4 linked regions of the Homo sapiens genome follow. The protein of the gene in region 3 interacts with the protein of the main gene of each other region in a pairwise test. Each region holds a gene or a part of one and is shown on either strand. Other genes may lie near its edges. The genes, in order: KRT24, CEP57, AARD and TFIP11.

Region 1 (8,034 bases), on a different chromosome or scaffold from region 3:
AGTTCTGGTGGACAGAGGACAAGAGACTTGAGACTGATGAAGCTTTCTTCTGAGCCTATCATATAAAATATGATCTTGTGTAAAATACCATGCCATTCTTTTGCTATGAAACTACTATTTAAGCCCTGGATTCCTTGACCAAAGATTTGCAGCTTCTCTGACATCAGAGGGCAGCAGGAGGTTGAGGGGTCAAGCTGGAAGAGACAGAGCAGGAAGGCCCAGTGTATCAACTTAGCATTGGCAAGAGGCACAGGGGCTAGGCCCTACTGCTCAAGTTATGATCTGGATTGTTCATGCTTTTGGATTCTCTGAAGAGAAGACTACTGTCTGTCTGGTATGAAGAAAGGCACAAAAGGACTTTTTAAGCAGAGCTAATCCTTGAAAACTGTGCTTATTTCAAACTGTCTTATCTGTGGAGCCTGGAGGACAAAGCATCCCAACCCCCGCAAAGTCACTCACCCATTCTCTTAATTCTCCATAAACTCACGGAAAGATCTTCAGGAAACATAGAGAATTGAGTTATTTAAAGAGATTTGAAAGCACTCACATACAAGAACAAAGCCAGGTGATTTTTCTTCCCAGAACAAAATTTGGCAAAATGGCATGACCAAGCAGATGCTTCCTGGTGGAGAAGAGGAAGCCTTCAAATAGACACACTTAAGTGAAACCAGGAAGAGAAAGAATGGACGAGGGTGGTGGGGAAGGAGAGAAAGTGATGAAGGAAGAGAAACAGCCACAGAATTGGTGGATTTCTGGGGTGTGACAATGACACACCCAATCCATCGACGGGTGGTGCCAGATCTACTGGAGTGGGCTCTTAGTCATGTTATTATTGCAAAACCTTTTTTCTCTTCCAAGTAGTTGACCCTGGCGGGGCCTAGAGCAGCCACCAGCAGGAAGCTGGCCCAAACAATGATTCCCTACAGGAAGGTCCCCGGTTGACTCTTGCCTGACCTTTCTGCCCTCTTCCCAAACAACATTTCCTCTTACTGCCAAGCCCCGCTCTCCGCCACCACACACTGAGAATCACTAACCCAGAAGTGGAGCATAAAGATTCAGAAAACAAAACACAACACATAGTAAAGAACAAAAGTAATCAGTGATCCAAGTTGTTCATGAAGAAAATCAGGCCATGTTAGTTTTTATTAATTCAAGGAATATTTATTGTCTATCTACTATCTGTCATTGCAACGGCATTGCAAAGAGACTGTTCACACATCAAATTTATACTTTCCAATGTGTCCAAAAGAAAGAAAATTGCTATATTAAAGAGATGTCTGTGCTCCCATGTTTATTACAGCACTACTGACAAGATTTAGAAGCAACCTAAGCATCCATCAACAGTAGAATGGATAAAGAAAAAGTGGCACAGGTCAGGCGCGGTGGCTCATGCCTGTAATCCCAGCACTTTGGGAAGCCAAGGAGGGCGGATCACGAGGTCAGGAGTTCAAGATCAGCCTGGCCAACATGGTGAAACCCTGTCTCTACTGAAAATATGAAAATTAGCTGGTCATGGTGGTGGGTGCCTGTAATCCCAGCTACTCGGGAGGCTGAGGCAGGAGAATCGCTTGAACACAGGAGGTGGAGGTTGCAGTGAGCCGAGATCGCGCCATTGCACTCAAGTCTGGGTGACGAGAGTGAAACCTGTCTTAAAAAAAAAAAAAAGTGGCACATATACACAACGGAGTACTATTCAGTCATGAAAAGAATGAGATCTTGTCATTTGCAACAACGTGGATGAAACTGGAGGTCATTATGTTAAGTGAAATACGCCAAGCACAAAAAGACAAACTTTGTGTATTCTCACTTACTTGTGGGAGCTAAAAATTCAAACAATTGAACTCATGAAGATAGAGAGTAGAATGATGGTTATCAGAGGCTGGGAAGGGAAACGGGGGAGTAGGGGAAAAGTGAGGACGCTTGATGGGTACCAAAAATAGTTAGAAAAATGAATAAGACCTAGTGTTTCATAGTATAACAGAGTGACTATAGTCAATAATAATTTACTTGTATAATTTATAATAACTAAAAAATAGTATAATTGGAATGTTTGTAACACAAAGGATAAGTGCTGGAGGTGATGGGTACCCCATTTACCCTGATGGGATATGTACACCTATATCAAAATATCTTATGTACCCCATAAATCTATATACCTACTATGCACCCACAAAAGTTAAAAGTTAAAATTTTTTTAAATGTATATTTTCCCTTCTTTTTTACTGTCTGCCACAGAAAGTTTTGTCAACATTCAACAAATACTCTAAACCCAGCAACTTCCCTTAACTACTCTGATGTGATGCTTCTATTTGAAAAACACAAAACAGTATATTTTCTTGAATGAACAGAAGATAGAATACCCAAGTTCTGTTCTCAATTCTGTAAAGATTCATCAGGAGCCATATGCCATGCATTTCAGTATTTGGTTTTCCTACTAGTCTAAAAACCTGCAATATGTTAATCTGAAAAATATTTAAATACTAATAATCTATCCCCCACACACACAAAAAAAAATTGATGGTTACTATCTGCAAATCATTCTGCACTTATTATTAAAATCATATTCTATAAGGAAATATAGCTTTTATATGTTTCTTTACAGGTAGAAATAAACTTCTAATCACAAACTATTCAAAATTTGAACTGGGAGCCCAGACACCTAAGATTCAGTCTGTCTCTCTCTCTCTGTCTTTTTTTTTTTTTTTTTTTTGAGATGGAGTCTCGCACTGTCGCCCAGGCTGGAGTGCAGTGGCACAATCTCTGCTCACTGTAAGCTCCACCCACCGGGTTCAAGCAATTCTCCTGCTTCAGCCTCCGAAGGAGCTGGGATTTAAACGTGCTTTCAGCCAAATGCAAGTCTTTATGAAAATTGAAAGATTACATTTCATAGTTTTAAAAGGGAGAAACACTCTGTGACTGTTCCTCCCATTGCCAGCATTTGCATACCATTTAATCATTAGGGTTTAGTTTTCTTTGGTTTCACAGCTTTAGGGATGGGCGAGGCAGGATGACCAACACATTATGTGTGGTGCATTTTTTAGCTACTTTAGAAGGGCGTTATAAAAATTACTCCCAGCTTAACAATTTAAAATTTTGTACACCATGTACCCCTTGGAGATATGTCACCCTAAATATGAAGAAGAGTAACATCATACTCCTGTGAAAACAGTACAGGTAGATCATAAAAGCCACATAAGAGCTACATAGTAAAGTGAATGATTACCTATTTAATCATGTGTCCCAATAAAATGCAATTTAAGGAAAAATTTAAAGCAGAACATTGTTTAACAAATAATTGAATATAAAGATTAAGGTGTGAACATAGTTTAACAGAGACTGGCAAAAGAAGGAAGAAATTCTTAAATAAACAAAAGTCAGCTACTTAAGTTTAAAGCTAAGGAGGATACAAACTATTTCTGGAAGCACCTGTTTTTTAAGACTTTTTAAAAATTGTGGTAAAATACATATAACATAAACTTATCATCTTCATCATTTATAAGTTTACAGTTCAGTAGTCTTAAGTGTACTGACATTGTTGTGCAACCAATCTCCCAAACTCTTTTCTTTTTTTTTTTTTTAGACGAGTCTCACTCTGTCTCTGAGGCTGGAGTCCAGTGGCACAATCTTGGCTCACTGCAACCTCTGCCTCCCGGGTTCAAGCAATTCTCTGCCTCAGCCTCCCAAGTAGCTAGGATTTCAGGCGCCTGCCACCATGCCTGGCTAATTTTTTGTATTTTTAGTAGAGACGGGATTTCACCATCTTGGCCAGGCTGGTCTCGAACTCCTGACCTCAGGTGATCCACCTGCCTCGGCCTCCCAAAGAGCTGGGATTACAGGTGTGAGCCACCACGCCTGGCCCCAAACTCTTTTCATATTGCAAAATTAAAATTCTATGCCCAGTAAGCAACAACTGTCTATCCCCAACCCTTCGGCCACTGGCAACTACCATTCTACTTTCTGTCTCTGTGAATTTGACTACTCTAGGCACCTCATAGTACTGGAATTATACAGTATCTGTCTTTCAAAAAGACACTATTAAACCGGTGAAGTGACTAGAAGACATGAATGGAAACAGTCTAAAATACAAAGGGACAAAAAGCCATGAAGCACAAAGGGAGCTCAGGAGGGTTCAGAATCTATAAAATAACTCCAATTGTAACACTAGTTATCAGAAGTAGATACAAATCCTCTTTTATCTTTAAAACGAAGGCAGGAGATATCTGCATCATCTCTTCATTTCTTGAAATTTGACTCAAAAAGGAAGTTGCTGTCTTTATATCAGACTAGAATTCAACCAGAAAGAAAATCGTATTAAAACAATCTGCCTAAAAGCTTTTCAATCTTTCTTAGACATTAGCTACTTGAATAAACATGTTGCTGAGATGTAATAATACTTACCTAGAAAACTATTATTTATGTTTTTCTTATGAACTATAAAACATAATTGTTACAAATTATATGCTTTTTTGTATATTATACAAAATACAAAAAAAGAAAGCAATAACTTAAAATCACAAACTTCAACAACCTTAAAAAACACGCTGATTGAAATAATCAAAGAGATGGATGCTTAATCAAATCTGAAATTATTGCTGATGTGAAAGCTAATTTCAACTTTTGAGAACAATATGAACAAAAAAGTTACATGATTGATGGGAAATTTTTATTCTCATCATATTAAGTATTTTAATTACATTTGTTAACCTGGAGATATTCTCTGCAAATGTGAAATCATGAAGCAAATTTAATAGAACTACACTTCCAGAGAAAAGTTACCAATCATCAAAACCTCTGAAAGATTAAAACTGTAATTCTGAAAATTTTTTTGTTTTGCTCCACTTTATTCTTTTTTTATTGATATAGTAAATGTCCCAGGGCTCTGACCTAGCTTCAGAGAAGTGTTCAAGAAACAGAAATTATCCAATTACGGATTACCAAAACTGTAACAGGGATTAAGAAGTGACAGAGAAAAGGAACACCCTCGAAGTGTGTATATAAAGGCCAAAAAGGCAGCCTTGAATACACTCTTCGTCATCACCTCTCCTATTCGCCTGGACAAGCTCATGTTTGCAGGAGCACCATGTCTTGCTCGTCTCGCGCCTCCTCCTCCAGGGCTGGAGGCAGCAGCTCAGCCAGGGTGTCTGCTGGTGGAAGCAGCTTCAGCAGTGGAAGCAGATGTGGTCTGGGGGGCAGCTCGGCCCAGGGCTTCCGAGGAGGAGCCAGCAGCTGCAGCCTGAGTGGGGGGTCTAGCGGTGCTTTTGGGGGCAGCTTTGGAGGGGGCTTTGGTAGCTGCTCAGTAGGGGGTGGTTTTGGGGGAGCTTCAGGCTCTGGGACAGGATTTGGTGGGGGTTCTAGCTTTGGCGGGGTCTCTGGATTTGGCAGGGGTTCTGGATTCTGTGGGAGTTCTAGATTCAGCAGTGGTGCTACTGGAGGCTTCTACAGCTATGGTGGTGGTATGGGAGGTGGTGTTGGCGATGGGGGGCTTTTCTCTGGAGGGGAAAAGCAAACCATGCAGAACCTCAATGACCGCTTGGCCAATTACCTAGACAAGGTCAGAGCCCTGGAGGAGGCTAACACTGATCTGGAGAACAAAATCAAGGAGTGGTATGACAAATATGGGCCTGGGTCTGGAGACGGTGGATCGGGAAGAGATTATAGCAAATACTATTCAATAATTGAAGATCTCAGAAACCAGGTGAGACTATCTGTGCCTGAGTTTCTATTATTTGTGGATCTTTCACTTCTTTTCAGATCATGTACTATAATGAAAATTTTAAGAAATTATTTGAAAACATATTTGCTTGTTACATATGCAAAGTGGGACCTGATGTGTCTTAATTATTATAGTACCTTATGTGATGTCCAATCACATTAATTTTCTGTTTCCATCTCAGTTTCAGTATTTCTACATAACAGTAAAACTTATACAACACCAGGCAGCTAATTATCATTTATATATAAGAATGGTGGCAGTGAGTCAACATTAGTTTAATCTAATTATTTATGATGAATTCTGACAGACTGACACATTTTATTGTCTTACAAGATTTAAATATTCTTTAGTATTATTTTTCTTCCCAGAAAATCTGGTGCAAACATTACATAAGAATGTAGTAGAATCTAAAATGTTTAGCCACTTTTGTATGGGAAATATATTTTTAAAGACTTTTTTGGAAGTGAAATACAATTTTTGCACTATTTTCTGAAAAAGCTCATGAGATAATGATCTAACAAAGTAGCAGAAATATGCAGAGGACTATGTCCTGTAAAACAGGTTCCTGTGCCTAGTCCAATAAATGTGCAGACTGTTATCTTTTTGCAGAAAGATGTAGTCCTAAATATACCAGCCCCAGATATACAGGTCTGGGGCTGTATACTTAGTCATTACTAAGTAAGTTTGCAAAGCAAGTCACCTTTAAAAGCTAATAGCACAGGCCGGGCACGGTGGCTCACACCTGTAATCCCAGCACTTTAGGAGGCTGAGGCGGGCAAATCACTTGAGGTCAGGAATTTGAGATTAGCCTGGCCAACATGGTGAAACCCCGTGTCTACTAAAAACACACACACAAAAAAAATTAGCCGGGCATAGTGGCACGCCCCTGTAATCCCAGCTACTCAGGAGGCTGAGGCTCAAGAATCGCTTAAACATGGGAGGCGGAGGTTGCAGTGAGCTGAGATCTTGCCACTGCACTCCAGCCTGGGCGACAGAGCGAGACTCTGTCTCTACACACACACAAAAAAAAGAGCTAATAACACAGGCAACAGCTACCCTTACAAGTAGGCATGCAGACACAAGGTAAAAATCATTCGTGATTCACTCACTATTAACATCTTTTTTAGATCATTGCTGCCACTGTTGAAAATGCTGGGATCATTTTGCACATTGACAATGCCAGATTGGCTGCTGATGACTTCAGACTGAAGTAAGAAACATAAAGACTTGAAAACAAGTGTTACGGGAGAAAAATAAATTTTATTCCATTTTATAAATAAATATATATATATATATATATATATATATATATATATATATATATATATATATATATACTAGAGGATCATGACCTAAATTTACAAACATCCCAAGGGTAAACTTTAGACCATTAGACAAATCTCCACTGATGCTGGGGCAGGTAGATCCTCTCTGCTGAGCACCTAAGCCAGTAGCTACACACCGGCCGCTTCTGCTCCTTTCATCAGCCTACAACAGCTGCAAAAGAAAAAAGAAAAAGAAAAAAGAAAGAGGCAAATTTAGAATGAGAATTTTATTATTAAAAATGTTAGACATGATTAGAATTAACATTACATTGGTATTTTTCTTTACAAGGGAAAATTTCCCAAGAGAAAACTTAATAACCTTTATTTATTAAAATGCCCACAAGTGAGAACTTTTTCAATATGTAAGAATGGAAGGTACCCTTTGAAACACGGCCAGGTGAGCTCACAGTATTTTTTGCCTTACTGCTGCCCCTTCCAGGTATGAGAACGAGCTGTGTCTCCGGCAGAGCGTGGAGGCTGACATCAATGGCCTGCGGAAAGTCCTGGATGACCTGACTATGACCCGCTCTGACCTGGAGATGCAGATTGAGAGTTTCACCGAGGAGCTAGCCTACCTGAGGAAGAACCACGAGGAGGTAGGAACATGTTCTACATAAACGAATAACTCTAGCTAACATATTTCTCCCCATATGCATTCTATACAAATAAAATTGGCTGGGTGCAGTGGCTCATGCCTTTAGTCTCAGCTACTCTGGAGGCCGAGGCAGGGGGATCCCTTGAACCCAGGAGTTGGAGGCCACAGTGAGCTATGATCATGCCACTGGATTCCAGCCTGAGCAACAGAGAGATACTGTGTCTCTAAAAAAGTAAAATAGGCCTGGCACGGTGGCTTATGCCTGTAATCTCAGCACTCTGGGAGGCCAAGGCAGGCAGATCATGAGATCAGGATTTCGAGACCAGCCTGACCAACATGGTGAAACCCCCTCTCTACTAAAAATACAAAAATAAACAGGGCATGATGGCGCACACCTGTTG
Region 2 (6,970 bases), on a different chromosome or scaffold from region 3:
ACAAAAACTACACATAAAAAAGGTTTTAAAGAACGAAAATAAAGGTACATATGTAGAGAAGTCTCATGAATCAAGAATTTGAGGAAACGTCCTTCTACTAATATCCTAGTTACCTTAATGACCATATCATTTATTTAGAAAATGTTAACTTTTCATCACATATAGGTACAAATCATATAAGGAATATATACTGTGAGTTTTCAACTTTGAAAAAATGAGAACAAGCATATTCAACATAAACTATAAAAACATACCTTGATTTTCTTTGATATTCAAAAGATGATTCAGGGCAGTTTAGAGCGTTAAAGTTAGCATTTTTGACCAATAATAAATAATATTGGTATAATATACCTATAATGATTGTAGTATACATATAAGACAATTTGTACTAGGATTGGGTCATGACTTCTGTGAATAAATATCTTTAATTGCGCTGTTTTATAAAAATAGTTCTGAGGAGGCTGTTCTGAAGTGGGCTAAAGTCTGATGATGCAAACTTTATGGATAAGTTCTCCATAACCAAGAATTTGCTATATTTGAATCTCTAAAGAACAGCTTCACAAATTTCACACTGGATTCAATACATGTAAAACAGGTATATAATTTGACTGTTTTTAAATGTTATCACCTTTCCATCAAAGTATCTATAGAAAATGTCTTTCATAAAATATGGTATGTTGAAATATCTAAGAGCATAGCAGTAGTTTTTTTTTTTCGAGACGCAGTCTCGCTCTGTCCCCCAGGCTGGAGTGCAGTGGCAGGATCTCAGCTCACTGCAAACTCCGCCTCCTGAGTTCACGCCATTCTCCTGCCTCAGCCTCTGGAGTAGCTGGGACTACAGGCGCCCACCACCATACCCGGCTCATTTTTTTTTTGTTGTATTTTTAGTAGACATGGGGTTTCACCGTGTTAGCCAGGATGGTCTCCATCTCCTGACCTTGTGATCCGCCCTCCTCGGCCTCCCAAAGTGCTGGGATTACAGGCGTGAGCCACTGTGCCCAGCCAGCAGTACATATTTTTTTAAAAGGTCCAGCTTTATGAAAAATATTAACTGGTAACAATGACATGAAAACATAAGACATACTTACCGTCCCAAATTGCTTCACATTTTGAGCACACTTCTTACAAATTGTGTTAGTTTTGCTGAAAAATAAATTGTATATAGATCATGTTTATGTAGCTTTCTAAAGTAATTAGCACAATGTCAAAATAAAATGAGTCAAAGATTTGTTGTACTTAAAACTTTAATAAGGACCACGGATTTTTTTCAAATATACAAGGATATTTTCAGAGTTGTTTTACCCAAATTAACTTATGACAAATGTTTTTATACATTTTTATTGCATATTACTTTTTGTAAACAAAACATCTTAATGTTTCCTATATAGCTCCAAAATCTTCACACTTGACACTATTACTGCACAGCATTACAATACCAGTGCCTACCTAACCTTCCACTTGGCTACTGTCCAACATTATAATGCCCACACCTATTTATGAAGAAATTATTTGTTCTTTTCTGAGGCTACTTTCTGTATATACTCTCAGAGTGGAACTGTTAAAAATGTTACGTACTACTCCTCTTCTATGTAACAAATTATTAGATTTTCACCTTGGAAGGCAGTTGGTAACACTACAGACCTTTCCTCAGATCCATTAAGGCTTTACCATTTTTTTTTAGTTTAACATAACTGTTTACATTTGCATTTTCATTAGCAAGGCTGTACATTTTCCATGTAGTATTATTCCTTCTCTCATATAAAGTCTAACTGTAAATTAACCACCACTGGTTTTTTTCGCAACATTCTCTCTCCCACCATGTATAAAAGGTTTACAACTTAAAATTTCTGGGGCTAAACCATTTTTTAAAAATACTTTCATAAAAACATGGGATTACAACCCCCAAGTATTCCATAAAGACAACACTTGTCTTTAACAGTCAAAAACTATTCAGTATACAAACCTCTCTTGTTGAAATTCTGATCTGCAGTAAGTACATTTTACAATAGGATGTGCAATCCGACATTCCTGTAATAAGACAATACATTAGTCAGTATCTTTCTGAAAGTCCCAAATCTCACTTTTCTGGTAGAAAACTGTTTACCCAACCTAGTGAAAGTCTAAAACATTTATAAAACCTGGCCCCAACGTAAAGAACTGGATGCTTTATCATATAAGTGGCCAATCACAATATAATTCCTTAGGGAAGGCACAGGTGTCTTTGTCTTTAGTAGACGTGGGGGTATATTACAGACAAATTAAGAAAGCTGTCAGGGCCTATTTCAAGGATTGGTTAAATGTGAAACTACTTATTATTTTGCACCGTTGCTCACAGACAGCATCCAGGCTTTAATGGGATGGGAGGAGCTCCAAATCAGAGCATTCTGTTCCCAAACCAGTCGCTTCGCTTTCCTGGACAGGGAAGAAGGATGCCATCAGCTTTGCGGCTTCGGGTTCCTAGCAAGAAAGTGCAAAAACCGTCCCCTGCCTCCTGGTGGAAGAAGAGGACAGACCAGGCAGAAAACCGAGATGAAAACATCTCCACCCCTGGGTCTCTGCGGCATAGACAGGTGGCTGCCTCACTCAACCCCACTCCTGAGACCCCCAGACGCTGACGGGGCCCGGCACCCTCCTGGGCCGCCTGGAAAAGGGCACGATTCTGCCTCCCTTTCAGGGTCCGTTCCCAGCTAATGTTCAAGCCCCCAGAAAAAGGGGTCCCCGAGTGGGGAGGCGAGGGCTCCAGACTCCCAAACCCCTGAGGCGCCGGCGAAGAGGGGCTGCAGTGCAGCGGCTACCCGGCCCCCTCCGGCTACGGCCGAGGACACCCATCCCGCCCGCCTCCCGGAGCCCACGGACCTTGCAGAGCTGCTGGCCCTGGGAGAGCTCCTCGAAAGGATAACGCTGGGTACACTTGGTGCAGGCGTACAGGGCCGAGGCCGCCATCCTGCTCCTCAGTCTCCTCCTCCGCCGCCGCCCGCTCCGAGGCGGGGCCCTACGGAGAACCCGAGAGCCGCCGCCGCCCGGGCCGCGGGCTCCTCCTCCTCCCCCTCCCCCTGCCTCGCGCCCACCAGGGCCTCGCCGCGAGAGCCCAGGGCCCCGCGGACGACGCCACCGTCTCCCTCCGCCTCCACTTCCGCCCCAGCCCACCCAGTGACGCCGTGCCAGCCGCTCCCGCTTAGGCCCCGATAGCGGCGGAGGGAGACGAAGCGGGTAGGGGGTTGCTGTTTAGCTGTGCGGCCGTGGATCCGCTTCCTTCTCGGCCTCCCTTTCCCATCCCTGATTGGCTGCGAAGGCTATCGCGTCATTCGATGGCTCCTCCCAACTCCCAACTTCCGCGACGCAGGAAGCGCCCACAAAGGGAGGATGTCGCCGGCCAATGACATCCCGGAGCTCTCAGCGCGCGAAATCCGCTTTGAACCTGCCCCGCCCAAAGGTCTGCGGTCGCGGCTATTTCTAACAGCCAGTCCCAGGTTTGGCTGAGAGCGCCCCAATCCAATTGAGCAAATGTTCGCGAAAGGCTCGTTCTCTGCCGCAACTTTTTTTCCCTTGCTTTCTATTGGACTAAATCGTTAAGTCCCTCCTAATCCTATTTGTTATTGGCCAAAAGGTAAATACTTCACCTGGAGAGGCGTCCCCGAGGCAAATTCACGCTCTCTCCGGCGTTTAATCCGAGGGAACTCGTGGAGTGCTTTAACTTCGCCTTCGCTTTTGTTTTATCTCCATTACTCCCTTCAGTTGCCACTGGCGACACCACTACTCGCCCACGCTTCTTACTGGAGGAGGCCCGACCCTCCGTAGAATCCCCGCAGAGCCGGCCTGTAACCCCGGCGTTGTCTGCCCCAGCGGGCCCCGTTACGCGCTACCTTGTGACGTCACCAGGGAAGAGGCGGATTCTCTCCTACTACAGAAAGACGTCTGCTGTTTTGATTGGCTAGGAAAGACGTCCGTTAGGACGTGTTGCCCTTTCTGTGTAAGCTGTGAGCGTAGGCGGCCCTGAGGGGGTGTGTTGCAGGGGTTTCCAAGCCCAGCACCAGCACCCTTGCCCTTTTCCATCAGGGGTTCAGCCTAGGGTCCCCGCTGGTGGGCGGCTCCCGAGTCTTGGAGAAGAGCACGAGAACCTAGACCGCCCCCGAAGTGCGGAGACCCCCTGGGCAGGCTGAAAGATGGCGGCGGCGTCTGTCTCTGCGGCTTCTGGTTCTCACTTGTCGGTAAGAAGCAGTTGGCGCGAGTGGGCCCCACGTCGGCCCTAAGCGCCTCTTTGAGTTTCCTCACGTTTCAGGGCGCTGTCAGTCCAGCTTCTGACGCAATTCTGGAGGTCGGCGGGAATGCCTAGATTGCCCCGCGCTCCCCAAGCTTCCATTCACTGTGGCTGTGTCGAAGCTGCACCCTCTGGCTCCCAGTGAAACTGGGCTGGCCGCCCCTGTTCCCCAGCCCTTATTCACCTTTTGGCGTAGCAACCAACCCCGGTTGCCTAACATTCCCAAGGGCCGGCTGGGATAACTGCCCACTCCCTGGCCTGCAAAAATGTAGCTCTTTTGGTCACGTGGGTTCAGCGGCCCCTCTAGGAAACTCGCCAGATCAGGTGAGGCGCGCCAGTGTGTTTAAGAGACGTTGCAGAATAGTAGTCCGCCGTCTCTCGAGCGCTTACTAGTCGTTGCTTATGCTGTTTCCTATCCCTGCAGTGCCTCCCACTCCCATCCACATTAACTTCGTTGTGTGATGCTCGTAGCCAGAACGCGCGCTTCCTGTCACCTAGAATTACTGGAACTTCAATGTGGAAATGCCCTTTTGGAGAGGCGACAGGGGGAATTGATTTTAAATATTGTTTTCGCCTCATCAAATGTCACCATCCAGTTTAGTTACTGGTATTCACTGGTATTTCTCAAATTGGAGTGTCGAATGCTTAGGTTTTTGAAAACCGCGGCATTGGAAAGCTTTGATAGGAAGTAAATGTTGGAGCTCTTATTTCTCCAGTTAGCAAATGTTCGATGCCTGGTATACTGTTAGGGTCCAAATGAACAGAATAGAAACCCTGCTTTGAAGGAGAAAAACACTGAAGAGAAACTACACGTAATTAGTGATTACTGCGCAGTATAGTTTAGGAAGTGCTACCGTAGTAGAATAATCTAGAGGGGAGTGATTAACAGTGCTTGGGTAGGCTAGAGAAGGTTTCCTAGAAGGGAAGATGGAGCTAGTTGCGTGTCGAAGGAATTGTGATTGCTTGTCCCAAGAGTAGAGAAAGGAGAAAAAGGCAGTGCGGGAATTTTGGAGTATGTGCTAGAACAGTAGGTGCTTTTAGGAAACTTGAGATAGTTCGGAATGAGAAGAAGTAATACGGAGGTAGAGCTGGATGAGGTGAATTGGAAACGTAGGTAAAAACGTGAAAAAAGAAGGATGGTGAGGGAAGGAACTAGAAGAGTATCAGGGTAAAGTTATTTTCTAGGATCTAGGGGGAAAGAGTTGGAAACGCTAAGAAAGCCTGGTCACCTTGGAGAAGTCAGTTTCAGCTTTTGGAGACTTGTTAGAATTTGTAATAATGGGACTAGAAGTATTACAGTGTTTCAGCCGAATGGGAATTAGAAGTTTGCAGAGAGGTCTGGGGAAGTTAAGGAGAAGTAAGGAAAGCAGCAATTTAAGGTTATTCAGGATTAGGTCAGTAAAAGAAAAAAGTAAAAAACTATTGGAAGTGTCAGCAGATGGATGAGATTTTATAGGAGATGTGATTAAACTTGGGAGAAGAGGGCTTTTCACGGCTCTCAAAAGTTAAGCACTTGGAGACCGAACAAGGAATACTCTTACAAATGTTGAATTGAGTCTGGGTGCGTGGCTCATGCCTGTAATACCAGCTACTAGTGAGGCTGAGGCGGGAGGATCACTGAGGCTGAAGTGAGGTATGATAGTGCCACTGCTCTCCAGCCTGGGCGACAGAGCGACCCTGTCTCCATAAAATAAAATATTAAATAAACGTTTAATTGAGCTGCACTATGCCAAGGACACCTAGGTGAGCATTGGCACTGGGATATAGTCAGCTGTTAATACTTATACGGTACCCTTGACAGAAATACCAAAGACTGTTCATTAGGAAAGCATATTTTTTTTGTGCTAAGCTCAGCTTTAATAGGATTCTAAATATCAAGGGTACACTAAGAATATCTAGGAACCTCCACAAATCAAAGTATAACAACCATAACTCAATCTGCTACATCAAAATGTCTATTTTGGAAGTTACTGTTTCTCAAAACAAAAATGACTAAATTTAGTTGGTTTCTTGGTGCGTAAGAAAACGTCCTGCTTAGATGTCCCATCAGAAATAAGGCTGCCATTTCCAACAGCGTTGGAAAAGCACTTAGCTTATCAAACAGCTGATCTTAACAGTAGGCAACATTTAAAAAAAAAAAAACTTGTTAAAACTATACCATGAACTGAGAACACAACTCGTATTCAGATTTCACGGTTATGAAGATTAACAACTGTTATATTCAACTGTTTTCGACATTGATAAACTCATACGGAGCTAGTTATAAGTACATTGAGATGCTTTACAGGCAAAGATTTTTAACAAGTAGATTCATAAATAACCGTCTTTGGGAAGCAGTGACCATGTAAATCTCAAATGTGAACAGCATGGAAGTAGGGCGATAGGTTTCAGTTAGGTTCTAGGTAACGTTTATTGAGTGATTGCTCTGGAATTGATAAACTTCGACTGGTGGAAAAGGCAGGAAAGCAACTATGATTGGGCATAATGAAATTAATTCCATATGGAGGTATGGGCAGCATTGTGTTGAAATACACAAGAATGTCTTTCATGTCAGCCTTGTAATATTTTCACAATAACCTTGGTGATTAATGACCTAATCTCTTGATTTGTCCCTCTGACTTTTGGTCCTTCGACCAAGCTGCACAGTAGCTCCATATTAATTTCCCTTAAAAATGTTTTATGGCTATCATACATTTTATAATATTAAATATA
Region 3 (6,868 bases):
ACTAGAAGGTGCTGATATGAGTTAGCTGAAATAATTTACCACAAGATTCTGGGTGGGAAAAGAGAAACAGAAGAGTACTTCAGAAAGTCATTTCTCTTGAATTGAGGGGTCAGAGTGAATTGTGGATAGAAAAAAGGATGTGGACTGAGAATAGATTTTCAGAATTCAGGCTTTTAAAGATATCATTCTGGGTGATAGCATACTTTCAGGTGTGGCTCATGTGACTGGATTACTGCAGTGAAACAAATGCCAGAGATGAAGATCAGGGAAATAGAGGGAATCAAATATTTTGTTCAGTTTAATTAACTAGGCAATTGATCACCTAGTATGTGCTAAATGGGTTTTGTGTTGTTGTGAACAAGATATAGGTATTTCCTAACCATTAAGTTAAAAAATGTATATAACAATATATATATTTGTTTTTTAAAAACATATATATAAAACCATATGTTTATTAATTAAGAGGAATCAAAGTCACTTACGTATACCTAGATACTTACCATTTCTTATGTTACTCATTTCTTCCTGAAGATCTGTGTTTCCCTGTACTATTATTTTACTTCAGCTGAGGAATTTCCTTTAGTACTTCTTATAGTGTAAGCCTGCTTGTGACAAATTTTCCTAATTTTCCTTTTTTAAAAACATGCTTTTTGAGATTGGTTTTTGGGAGGATATTTTTGCTGAACTTAGAATTCTGTGTTAATTTAGTTCTCTCTGCGTTTAAAAATATCTCAATGTTTTCTGGACTCCTTTTTTTTTCTGCAGGAAGTCAGAAGTCATTTGTATCATTGTTTACTTACGTGTAATGTACATATGTTTCTCCCATGGTAGTTTAAAAATATATTTGGAAATTTTTGATACTCCCTACTTCAAAAGGTGGAGCTGAGGTTCCTCCCCTTGAATATAGCTCCAACTTAGAGACTTGATACTGATCAGCAGAATGGTAATAACTGACTTCCAAAGCCAGGTCATAAAAATGTAGTTCAGAGCACATGTAAAGAGCTTCTCTCTGGCTCTCTGTATTTCTCTCTTCTTGTTTTGAGGGAAGTCTACCCACTATATCATGAAGACGCTTACACAATAGTAGGAAAGAGTCCACATGGAGAGGAACTGAGGCCTCCCACCAAGTGCTGGCTCCAATTGCCTGGCATTTGAGTGATTCATCTAAGTGATTCACCTTGCCAGCAGATCCTCCAGCGCCAATCACATCCAGCTTCAGAGGATGGAGACCTTGCCTGACATTTGGTTACAACAGCATAAAAGCTAAGGACCATAACCTAAGCTGTTCCCAAATTCTTTCCCACAGAAGCTGTCAGAGAAAATAAATGTTTATTTTTTTAAACCATTGAATTTTGGAGTAATTTGTTATGCAGCAATAAATAATTAATACATTTTCTAATTCAAATGTCTGTGGATGTTATATTCAGTGCTCCAATTCTTCAATTTGCTTTGCCTGTGTAAGAGAAAGAAAAAAAATTGTAAAATTCAAGGTGTACCACAACTGAAAAATTAACCTATAGAGGAAAATTATTAATTTGTGGTAAACCAGTTTATTTTAAAAAAACATTTTGTCTCCTTGGTTTGCCATTGTAGCTTGAGCACCTTGTGTAATGCTTGGTACATAATAAGACATTAAATAAATATTGTTAAATGAATGAATCAATAAATTTGCTTCCTCAGGTTTTAAGCTTCTGGGGGACAAAAACTATGCCTTATTCATCTTTGTATCTCCCTCATATGGCACAATTCTTAACACTGAACATGCGCCATTCACTGTTGAGTTAAATTGAACTTAACTGAAATTCTTGTTGAAGTAAATGATCTGGAAATGGAAGTGAAAAATCATAGCAAAAAATTCATTTTAAACGTTTATATTGTACATTGACTAGTGGTGGTTTTCAAGCCCCATCAACCTATCACCAACCAACAAACAAAAAACCCTAAATTCACACTCCATTGCTGCATGGCAGACCACATGGATTTTTATAATTTCTACCAAGACAACACATCTTCAGATGTTTCTAGGGAATCTTTATGAAGCAATATACAATGGTAGGAATTTTACTGTGCTTGGGTTGTAAACTATTGCAAGCTGTTCAATTTAGTAGATTATCTGCACAGGCTGAGTAACCTGTATTGTTCCTTATCCAGTTGAGCCTTAAGCCATTTCAATAGAGCCGAATTTTATGAACATAGTGAATTTAAACACTTATTCACTCTTACTCACTCACTCATGCAACATATAAACTGAGCAACTCTCTTCCTCTTTGGGAGATAAAGCGTATCCAGGGTGTATCCCAGTGGTTTGGAGCACAAGCCAGACTTCCTAGGTGCAAATTTCCAGTGGATCCCTTACCAGCTTTGAGATCTTTGGTGTACGTCTTAATCTCTTGCCTTAGTTTCCTCAATTGTAAAATGCAGAAACTAATAGTACTTACCTCACAAGGTTGCTGTGAAGATTAATACATAAAAATTGCCTGGCACATACTAAGCATGAATAAAAATCAGTTGTTATTGCCTTCAATGCCTACCATGGACCCTGGAACATTGCAAGTGACTTGTAACTTTTGAATGAATGAATGAATGAATGATGAATAAGATGAGAGTTGTGTCTAAACTATGTTTTGTTTTTTTTTGTAATTGCATTCTTTGATCATACAAAAGTTTTGATTGTTCACTCCTTTTTAGAAATTCCCTATTAGATCAAAAAGAGGCAGAATATGTTCTTTGATAAAGGATATACAGGTAATATTGGCACATGATTACCTGGAGTTGGTGTATTAGTCTGTCCTCTCACTGCTATAAAGAAATACCGGAGACTGGGTAATTTGGAAAGAAAAGAGGTTTAATTGGCTCATGGTTCTGTATGCTATACAGAAAGCATGGCAGCATCTGCTTCTGGGGAGGCCTCAGGGAGCTTTTACTCATAGTGGAAGGCAAAGCGAGAGCAAGTGTCTTACATGGCAGAGCAGGAGTGAGAGAGAGAGAGGAGGTGCCATACACTTTAAACAACCAGATCTGGTAAGAACTCATTCACTATAAAGTACCAGGCGGGAATGGGGCTAAACCCATTCATGAGAACTCTACCTCCATGATCCAATCACCTCCCACCAGGCTTCATCTCCAACACTGGGGATTACAATTCCACTGGAATTTGGTGATGACACAGAGCCAAACCTTATTAGTTGGGAATTAAACACACACACTTTGGGCTAAGGGGAATTTTGATTTTTCATTTTAACCCCTTCATAAACGTGGACATGGCAGACAGGAGTCAAAATAGAAAGGAGCATGGAGACTCAGACTTCCAGGTATGCCTTACTGAACCTGTAGAAGGTACATTCTAACTAGCAAGCAGGGCCAAGGCTCTCCCCCTTGACTGCGGGCAATACCTGGGGAAAGGTGAGGGGTCTAATTAAGCCTTTGCATTCCCCAAACTTGGCAAAGTGCCTGGCAGAGTAGGAAGAAAAAAAATTGTTTTTAAGGAATGACGTATTAGACGATCAAGGCAACCAGGAAGGCTTTGGGTTGAAATATTCTAACCTTTGGTCATAAACCTTCCACCTGTACCTCAACTTCCACTTACATAGGCTGACTGCTCAGTTACCAAGCCTTCTCCTTAGAAAGACTTCCTTTCAATGCAAGCAGCAGAAAAAAGCGACTCAGCTTAAACTTCTCCTGGAGTTATGGGAACCGCCTCCTTCCTCTGTCGCTAATGGAGGACTAAGATGGGACTGGGAGCAAAGGAGCGTCTCTGAATGGCGGGGCAGTTGCAGCATCCCACTTGGCAAGGGTCCTTGAATTACCTCCGCCCCCGCCCTGACCCCGCCCTAAACATCAAACTTAGAAACTCATCTTTCAGCAGCAGCGGTAGAGCAGTGACCAGGCGTCTCCGCGATGGGCCCCGGGGACTTCCGCCGCTGCAGAGAGAGAATTTCCCAGGGGCTCCAGGGACTCCCAGGTAGAGCGGAGCTTTGGTTCCCACCTCGTCCCGCGTGCGACTTCTTCGGGGACGGCAGGAGCACGGACATCCAGGAGGAGGCCCTCGCCGCCAGCCCGCTGCTGGAGGACCTCAGACGACGGCTGACGCGCGCCTTCCAGTGGGCGGTGCAGCGCGCGATCTCGAGGCGCGTGCAGGAGGCGGCGGCGGCGGCGGCGGCGCGGGAGGAGCAGAGCTGGACGGGCGTTGAGGCCACCCTGGCCAGGCTGCGGGCGGAGCTGGTGAGAGAGCGGGCTAGGCGGACGGCTCCCAGGGCTCCCTCTCCCGGGTCCTCTCCTCCAGCTGCAGAGCCGCTGGCCGCGTAGCCCACCCGACGCCTTGGGGGGCCCCTCAGGTCTGGACACGGCGTTGACGCCCCCGCCTCCCCAGCATCGTTGGGAAGGAAAAGGGCCCTGCAGGACCCATGGTGGGGGGTGGGGGCGGGGGTGCCTGGTCTACCAGTGACATACCCAAGATGTCTCCTCCCCAACCCGTTTCTATAGTTTTCTGCCCTGTAGGGAACTGTGACTATGTGTATGTATGGCTCGCGGAGGAGGAAATTTCCATGAAATAAACTCTCTCTTGCGATTGATGGAGTGTGTCCATCAGTAACTCTTTCTTTATGCCCCGCAAGTTTTATTCTTATCTTTCCCGTGGGTAATAATTTAGAAAACTGGAAGTGATAAGGTATTTTGTAAAATTGCACCATTTCGAACATTACACAGGTTACATCCGAATATTAAACAGGAGGGTGTATAGGTAAATATTTTAGCTGACTGATTTTTTTTAATTCAAAAAACTGGAAATTAGTCACAACTTGAAAAGGACACAATGAATAGGAGCAATCAGACTTTAAAATGGTGCTGCCTAGGAAAGTGTGCAGTGGAGACTTGACTTGGAAAATTCTTCTCTTTTGCACTGATTACTAATACAATTAACCACTACTTTAGAACTGAGCCAACCATTAGTAAATTGTCTTATTTAAGAATGTTATCGCATTTCTAAGTTTAAGAAGAACAGTATTAGGCCGGAGCTGTGGCTCATGCCTGTAATCCTAGCTCTTTGGGAGGCCGAGGCAAGTGGATCACCTGAGGCCAGGAGTTCGAGACCAGCCTGGCCAAAATGGTGAAGTCCTGTCTCTACTAAAAATACAAAAATTAGCCAGGTATGGTGGCTGGCACCTGTAATCCCAACTACTCCAGAGGCTGATGCAGGAGAATCGCTTGAACCTGGGAGGCAGAGGCTGCAGTGGGCTGAGATTGCGCCATTGCACTCCAGCCTGGGAGACATGAGTGAAACAACGTCTCAAAAACAAAAAAAGGACAATATCCTAAATTCCGTGTCAGATTCAGATTGTTAACATGGGTTACATTAGATTTACTACCAGATTTACTATCTTATCCAACAATGTCAAAGAAACACCTGGTTTTCACCCTGAGTCTAAGCAGTGAGTCTGAGCTGCAGGGTAGCCGGAGCCACCTCATTCGGCCACTGGAGGCCTGTGCTATGGGCCAGGATGCTAAACTGGAAGGCTGAAACCTGGCGCAGCCATCTCTGCATTGTAGTCTTGGGATCTGCCGGTACTCCTTCCTGAGCCTCAGGGGACTCATATTTAAATCAGATGAGGAGATTACACTGAATAAGCTCAGAGACAGCTTTCAATCATAACATTTTAATAAGTTGCTTGTTAGGAGCTTTAGACAAGCAATATGTTGGGGGTGGCAATAAAATCTCACGAGATCGGGTGCGTTCAGGGTGGTATGGCTGTAGACCGCTGGTGGCAATAAAATCTAAACAGATGAGGGCTCAAATACCAACATTACCATTTACAGGTTCTGCTAACACTTGTTGGCCTTACAACTTTGGGATCGTTACTTAGCCAGTTTGAGTTTGTTTACCCATCTGTAAAATGGAATTTATAATCTCATAGGATTCCAGAGCTTATGTGAGATAATATTCCATGAAATGCTTAGACCATGGGTATTGTTTAGTGGCTCTTATTATTATAATGATTACTATAGACCTTGGACTCTGACTGTACCAAAAAAGAACTGATACATTCCTATAAAAAAATCAGGAGTTTTTCTGGAAAGGAACCAGAGAAGTTTACACATACACAAATAATGTGTCCTTGGGTTACAGACGATGGTCAACATCTTGGTCAATCATTTTATCCTGGTCATAAAGAAGAGGCAAAGGAGTGTGGATACTGTACCTTAATATCATTACCACTAGAAGACTTAGTTTTCAATTTTCGGCTATTAACTGGATTTTTACAGGAACTGACATATATTCCTATACAAGTGTACATGTATCATATATTAGGATGATATTCGTAAGGAACGATGAACAAATTTAATTAATTTAGAGTTGTGTTGCAATTTATACTATTTTCTATTGTTTGACTGGGTTTTCTTAGTAAGAATCATTCACTTCTAGGGTCTGTGAGTGCATCTCAGGGGTTCTATATACCTAAAATTGTATGCAGAATTTTTGATGTGCATATAGTTTTTCCTCAGAGAGGGTTCATAACTTTCATCAGATTCTCAGAGGGATCCTTGATGAAAGAAAAGTTAAAGAACCATTGATGTTTGAATTTCCTAAGTAAGTGTGAATTATACATACTTATTTTACTTAGATGGTAAATCATTACCAATAATTTTTCTCCTTGATTCTTGCATGAAAGTACAGGACGGATATTCATCAGTTAATTAATTAATTAATTAATTCACTCACTCTTATAACAAACACACAGAGAACCTACTAGGTTGTGTGCCCAGGCAGTGCACTCTTAGTTGGGGATACAATTATGAATAATATACAGCCTCTACCCTCAAAATCATCAGTCTCGTCTGGTCAGCGTGTTATGAGGCACTTGTACAGAGTGCT
Region 4 (7,000 bases), on a different chromosome or scaffold from region 3:
GAAATAGGCATTAACAACTCAGACGATCAAACTTGTGACTGTGATGCAGGACATGAGGGACATGAGGACATGAGGGAGAACACATTTTAGGGCATTTCATCTATTCTGAGAGGTCAAGGAAGATTTCTGTGGAGAAAAGTGACCCTTAAGCTGATATGACTGACAGTAGAAGGTAACTAGGGTGGTAGAAGAGGTCCCAATATGCAAAGGCCCTTGATGGGAAGCATCACGGTATCCACAAGGATATGAAAGGCTTGGGGGCTGGAGCAGAGAGGGGGAAGGGTAGCATAGTGTGTGTGATAGAGAGGGTGTGATGTGGGGCTGGGTTATGTTTTGAGAAGACCCTTTTGCTGGTGTGCTCAATAGGCATGGAGCCACAGTGGAAGACTGTGAGGAGGCCAAGCCAGTGGTCCCTGCACAGGTAGTGGAGGACTGGTCTAGGATAGTGGTGGGCAATGAGGATTCAGGCTGCACGTCTTCTCCCCAGCACAAGGTTATGTGTGCCCTGGCTGAACCTCACTCAACCAGGGTGTGCCAGGTTGGGGGTTTTTTCCTCCATGGCCTCACCTGTGGCCTCTAGGCTCTATCCTATTGAGAGTGTGCCTTTTTCTTTTTCTTTTTTTTTTTTTTGAGATGAAGTCTTGCTCTGTCGCCAGGCTGGAGTACAGTGGTGCAATCTTGGCTCACTGCAACCTCTGCCTCCTGGATTCAAGTGATTCTCCTGCCTCAGCCTCCCGAGTAGCTGGGACTACAGGCATGTGCCATCACACCCAGCTAATTTTTGTATTTTTAGTAGAGACGGGGTTTCACCATGTTGGCCAGGATCTCTTGACCTTGTCATCCGCCTGCCTCGGCCTCCGAAAGTGCTGGGATTACAGGCGTGAGCCACCACACCCAGCTGAGAATGTGCCTTTTTCAAAGGAGGCTGGGGGAGAAAGAGTATAGAGATTAGTCCAAACTTCTCATCCACAAGGAAGTCTGAAAGTGGATGACAAATAGATCAGGGAACAAGAATTGCATAATCATAAGATAATAATAATAGCTAACATCTCTTGGCTGCTTACTTGTCCTGGCTATTTCATAAACCTGGATTAATTTTCCTTATGAGAAAGGTACCATTATTGTCCCCATTTTACAGATTAAGAGACTGAGGCTAATGGTCATACAACTAGGCAGAGGCTAAGCTAGAATTGGAACCTGGACCTATCTGACTCTAGAGTTTGGGATCTAAATCACTAAGTTATATTACAATTTTAGGAAAAAACTCCCTAAATTCTGTTGTTGCCCTGAGGGTGTTGAATTACTAGGTTGGTCATTTTACAAGGCATCCCTTTATTTGCTGTATTCCCAGGTTTTCTTTTTTTCTTTGAAACACAGTCTCTATTACCCAAGCTGGAGTGTGCAGTGGCGTGACCTTAGCTCACTGCACCCTCTGTCTCCTGGGTTCAAGCGTTTCTCATGCGTCAGCCTCCTGAGTGGCGTGGGATTACAGGCGTGTGCCACCACACTCAGCTAGTTTTTTGTATTTTTATTAGAGATAGGATTTTGCTATGTTGGCCCAGCTGGTCTTGAACTCCTGGCCTCAAGCCTCCCAAAGTGCTGAGATTATGGGCATGAGCCGCTGTACCTGGCTCCAGGGTTTTTTATTGTAATTTTTTCTTTTTTAAACCACACAGTACAAATATATCAATTTTATTTTATACAAAAAAGACCTGAGGTTAATGGCTTAATGTAAGTACTTGAAGCAGTCAGAGTTTAAATCAATATATTTCATTTTATAGAGTTAATTTCTTATTTCTTAGGGGACTTTAGTGTAATTTTCTTTTCTTTTTTTTTTTTTTTTGGAGATAAGGTCTCACTCTTTTGCCCAGGCTGGGGTGCAGTGACATGATTATAGTTCACCGCAGCTTCAACTTCCTGGGCTCAAGCAATCCTCCCATCTCAGCTTCCCATGTAGTTAGGACCACAGGCTTGCACAACCATGCCTGGCTAATTTTTATTTATTTTTTTTTTATAGAGACGAAGTCTCACCATGTTGCCCTGGCTGGAAATTTTCACATTCAAATAAATTTAATGGCTAGGAGCTTTTTCTAAGTTTGATTAATATAATTGTTACATGCTTTACATTCATATAATCTTTCAATGGGTTTTATTTATGATTTTCCATCAAAATTTCTGCTCCTGTTGGATTTTTGTACTTGAAATAGTTTTCAAAACAATTGCTTTTTATGATAAATTAATTTTTTAAAATGTAGGAAAATTGTATTATCACATCATATTTTGAATTTGTAATCAACCCTACATTGATGTGATAACTCTTCAGCCGTAGAGGGATATGTCAGGTAAAATGTTAAATGTGACTACAGGAAGCCAAATCTGGGGTCCTTTGGATTTTTTGACACATTAAAAAATGTGTTACTTTTTTAAAAAACCTCCCATGAGATTCACTCTAAGGAGTCTTCAAGCACGTAGTTTCTGCAAAAGGATCGCTGCAGAGAAAAGAGTTCTTTACCGACCTGGTGGGGCTTTGTTTCTGTGCCTACAGGGCCCGTGACTACTCTGCGCCAGTCAACTTCATCAGCGCAGGGCTCAAGAAAGGGGCAGCGGAGGAGGCAGAGTTGGAAGATTCTGATGACGAAGAGAAACCTGTTAAGCAGGACGACTTTCCTAAGGATTTTGGACCAAGGAAGCTAAAAACGGTAGTCTCTATTGCAGGATTGTGACCCTAGGAATATCCTTCAAAGGTCATTGTGGCCCAAGCATTTTCTAGCCAGGGAGAAACTCATCTGGAATGAATTTCGTGAGTGTCTCCTTTTGGTGGCAGGTTTCTGTGAGTTGTGAAGTGTGTAGTGCAGTCTCTTCCTTCCTGACACGTTATCACACACATTTTTGGTTCATATGACACTTTTCATAGTGCTGTATAACTTAGGCCATTTTCCTGTTGGCCAAGCTTTCTTAGATTTTTCTTCATTTTGTTTTTCCATTAACTAAGCTTTGATTTTTCTTTTTTGCAGGGTGGCAATTTTAAGCCCAGCCAGAAAGGTTTTGCAGGAGGAACCAAATCTTTCATGGACTTCGGCAGCTGGGAAAGACACACAAAAGGAATTGGACAGAAGCTTCTTCAGAAGATGGGCTACGTCCCTGGACGGGGCCTCGGGAAGAATGCACAAGGTATTGCACCTTTGTCGTCTTGCATGATGGAGGAGGGCAGGCATAGGGAAGGAGAGGGGCGTTGGGAGAGGAGGTTTGCTTTTCCCTTTTAAAAGCACTTTATCTCTCCAGCCTGGTTTGCCAGCACAAGACATTTGCGTTCCTAAGCTACCTTGCTTTATCAAAGCTCAAGTTAAATAAGTAATTGTTTCAACAGCAAGGAAAGGGTTAGGGTCTAAAACAGGCTGCAAACAGGTTGAAAACAGGCTTTTTTTCTGGTCCTGACCAGTGCTTCTAAAAACAAAAATGAGGCTGGGTGTGGTGGCTCATACCTGTAATCCCAGCACTTTGGGAGGCCAAGGCGGGTGGTGGATCGCTTGAGGTCAGGAGTTCAAGACCAGCCTGATGAACATGGTGAAACCCCGTCTCTACTAAAAATACAAAAATCAGTTGGGTGTGGAGGCATGTGCCTGTAATCCCAGCTACTCAGGAGGCTGAGGCAGGAGAATCGCTTGAACCCAGGAAGTGGGGGTTGCAGTGAGCCGAGATCACTCCAGCCTGGGCAACAGAGCGAGACTCCATCCCTGAATAAATAAATAAATAAATAAATAAATAAATAAATAAATAGAATAAATAAAAACAAAAATGAATTAGTTGCTAATATTTAAAAAACAGACAATTTCACCTAAAATTCTAGATTTTGCCTGGCAGTAGTTAGTTGAGGCAAGTGAGAACTGCTCCTGGGACGATGGACATGGCCTTCTCTTGGAGGCAGTCTCCATTACCCCCTGTTGTCTTCCACCCCAACCCACAGGAACTTTTCTTGGTCCCAGAGTCATTTGAGTTTGCCATCCCTACTCACAAGGGTTTTAATTTTGTGGAAATAACCCTATTTGTCCTTCAGGAATATCAGTAAAACATCGTGCATAGTTTTTGTAATAGCTAGAGCCATATGGCTATAAAACTGGCTGAGCAAATCCTGCATTGGTTACTTCCATCTTCCTCTAGTAGCCCAGTCTCCTCCTGTCTTCTCATGGCCAGCCCCATTGAGACACAGCCCCTGTCACACTCTTACCTTCTTGAGACCAAAGCCTCTCAAACCAAACAGTTGGATTCTTCCTACAGGAACATTTCCCCCTCTTCTTGAGCTATTTCCTATGCATGATTGCCAAGTAGATATAATCAAATGTATCCTACATATTCAAATTCCAGTCTCTAAATAATAATAATAACATTATTATTTTTTGAGACAGAATTTCACTCTTGTCACCCAGACTGGAGTGCAGTGGCACGATCTCAACTCATCTGCAACTTCCACCTCCTGGGTTCAAGTGATTCTCCTGCCTCAGCCTCCCGAGTAGCAGGGATTACAGGCACCCGCCACCACGCCCAGCTAATTTTTGTATTTTTGGTAGAGACAGGGTTTTACTGTGTTGGCCAGGCTGGTCTCGAACTCCTGACCTCAAGTGATCCATCCTCCTCGGCCTCCCAAAGTGCTGGGATTATAGGTGTGAGCCACTGCGCCTGGCCTCTAAATAATTATTAAAGTGAAATCCAGGTTATGTGTTGAAAACATTAGGTACATGAAAAATACATGAACTTGAGTAAAGATACACTGAATGAGAATGAGGGGACAGTTTTTTTGCTTTTTTTTGATACAAAGTCTCACTCTGTTACCTAGGGTAGAGTGCAATGGCATGGCATGATCATAGCTCACTGCAGCCTCAACCTCCTGGGCTCAACCCTGCCAAGTAGCTGGGACCACAGGCACACTCTGCTGTGCCTGGCTAATTTTTTCTTTTTTTGTAGATGGGGTCTTACTATGTTGCCCAGGCTGGTTCAAGACCTTGGCCTCCCAAAGTGCTAGGATTACAAGCATAGCCACCACATCTGGCCCAGGGATAGCTCTTATTTAAGACTTCAGTGGAACTAAATGGAAGGGGGGCAGGGATGGAAAATTTGGAGTCAGGGGAACGTCTTCATTGAAATGTTGTGGTCCTATTCGTAAACTCTTTTATGAGAAAAACAACGTTTATTTCCAGGGCTTAAACTTGTTATAAAAAAGTTAAACACAGGAGATAGGAACTCCTAAGTAAAATATGTGAGGAGTCTTATATTAAATTGCAGCTTCACTTCAGTCAGAATCAGTATAGTATTGGAATTATTGCATTTTCCCTAATAGAGGCTCCCAAAGAAGTGAAGCATAGAATTTAGTGTGCTGGAGTTCTCAGTTATAAATGTAGTGTTCTGTTTTCTTCCTGTCCACTAAACAATCCAAGTGGAAATGGAAATCTATTTGGGATATAAATAAACTAGTCAGCAGACTGTTCTGTGGTAGCATAAATGCTCATAAGTTTCAAATCACAAGGGACAAGAGTAGTGTTCTGAGGGCAGAGAATAGCTCTCCTTCCTGAGTAGCATGTTATTTTGTGGAAGGAGCAAGAAACTGTCATTTCACTGAGTGGCTGATTCACATACATGAATTGCTGTGATCGTAAGACTCTCTTTTTTTTTTGCTGAAATTCCTCAGGTATCATTAACCCAATTGAAGCCAAGCAGAGAAAGGGAAAAGGTGCTGTGGGGGCTTATGGATCCGAGCGCACCACTCAGTCCATGCAAGACTTCCCTGTGGTTGACTCAGAGGAAGAAGCTGAAGAGGTAACTGGAAGTCAGGAGACATGGGTGGATGGTGTCCTGTCCATTTCTAATGGCTGTTCATTTATCCCTTCATTCTGTTAGTCCTCAGATGTTTATTGTACATGTACCGTATGCCAGGTACTGGGCTGAAGGCTAGGTGCACCATGATGAGAGGGCTAGGGTGGACAGAGAGTAAACAAGCAGCTGTGGTGTGGAAGTGGCAGTTGAAATGGCAGAAGGTGCCAGGAGCTGCCTAGACAGAAAATAAGGCTGGGGGTTGGGAGGTGGTGTTGACCTACTTTTATAAATAGGCTGGTCAGGGAAACCTTTTGGGAAAGGAAACATTTCAGTTGAGACTTGGCAGAAGGGTGAGCTGACAAGCCAGAGGACACTGAGAGGCTCTGAGCTTGGTGGTTAAGAAACCATAAAGGAAGCCCTTGCGGTGGGAGGGCGGTACACAAAGCAGAGGGGAAGGAAGTGCATTCAGAGGGGTGGGTGGTCCACAAGACAGCCATGACAGCCATTTTTAGGTGCTCAGGTTTCATCCCAAGTGCAGCAGGGAGCCATCTGCTGGCAGCTGTGTGTCCCTTTTCCCCAGTGATAGAAAGGGCCAGCTCTCTTGATTGAAGTATTACTCTTTTCCTGTTTGAATTTATGGGGGAAAGCAGGATGCTGCAAAGAGACATGTTACTCTTCATGTCACTGACCTTTTCATGAAAGAGTTATTTGATAAATGTGGGATTGACCACTGTGAGTCAGGTGTTCTCAGAAGCCTACAGGTGCCAGGCACACCACAGAAGCAAGTAAGATGAGCCAGGTGCTAGACAATAAAGAGTGGTGGGGACTGTGGCACAGAGGTGAGGCTGTAGTCTGTCTAGAAGGTAAATCTTTATTCAGCTCTAGGTGATTGTTGCTTATGAGGATGTGGGCTCAGTATTGCCTGATCCTCTGATTTTCCCAAAGTAGCCAGATGTCTAGATACTTTTAGAGAAAAAATGACAAGTCTTAACCAGTATGAGAAAAACATAGTGACAACCCCAAAACCAACTTCTGTGGGCTGGACTTTACTACCGTCACACTAAGAAAGTTTACAAATTTGTGTTCGTAAACAGGCCGTATTCAGAGCCGTCCTGGGCTGCGGGTTGGACAAGCTTGCCTTAGCTCCTCCTCTAGAAAGGTTTTGCAGACCCTGATTGTAAGAGACACCTTTGCT

What was found.
Region 1: the proteins of AARD (region 3) and KRT24 interact in binary tests that used the Homo sapiens proteins (3 or more experiments, as listed by UniProt).
Region 2: the proteins of AARD (region 3) and CEP57 interact in binary tests that used the Homo sapiens proteins (3 or more experiments, as listed by UniProt).
Region 4: the proteins of AARD (region 3) and TFIP11 interact in binary tests that used the Homo sapiens proteins (3 or more experiments, as listed by UniProt).

The regions. Positions count from the first base shown.
Region 1 is NC_000017.11:40,700,740-40,708,773, reverse strand, and holds the start of KRT24 (keratin, type I cytoskeletal 24), read left to right. Parts: upstream 1-5,021; 5' UTR 5,022-5,080; coding exon 5,081-5,695; intron 5,696-6,840; coding exon 6,841-6,923; intron 6,924-7,477; coding exon 7,478-7,634; intron 7,635-8,034.
Region 2 is NC_000011.10:95,786,536-95,793,505, forward strand, and holds the start of CEP57 (centrosomal protein of 57 kDa), read left to right. Parts: upstream 1-3,962; 5' UTR 3,963-4,163; coding exon 4,164-4,208; intron 4,209-6,970. Other genes in the region: protein FAM76B, read right to left, coding at 1,089-1,143, 1,964-2,028, 2,857-2,943. UniProt on the Homo sapiens protein: Centrosomal protein which may be required for microtubule attachment to centrosomes. May act by forming ring-like structures around microtubules. Mediates nuclear translocation and mitogenic activity of the internalized growth factor FGF2, but that of FGF1.
Region 3 is NC_000008.11:116,934,347-116,941,214, forward strand, and holds the start of AARD (alanine- and arginine-rich domain-containing protein), read left to right. Parts: upstream 1-3,860; 5' UTR 3,861-3,897; coding exon 3,898-4,221; intron 4,222-6,868.
Region 4 is NC_000022.11:26,502,474-26,509,473, reverse strand, and holds part of TFIP11 (tuftelin-interacting protein 11), read left to right. Parts: intron 1-2,545; coding exon 2,546-2,699; intron 2,700-3,014; coding exon 3,015-3,171; intron 3,172-5,680; coding exon 5,681-5,808; intron 5,809-7,000. UniProt on the Homo sapiens protein: Involved in pre-mRNA splicing, specifically in spliceosome disassembly during late-stage splicing events. Intron turnover seems to proceed through reactions in two lariat-intron associated complexes termed Intron Large (IL) and Intron Small (IS).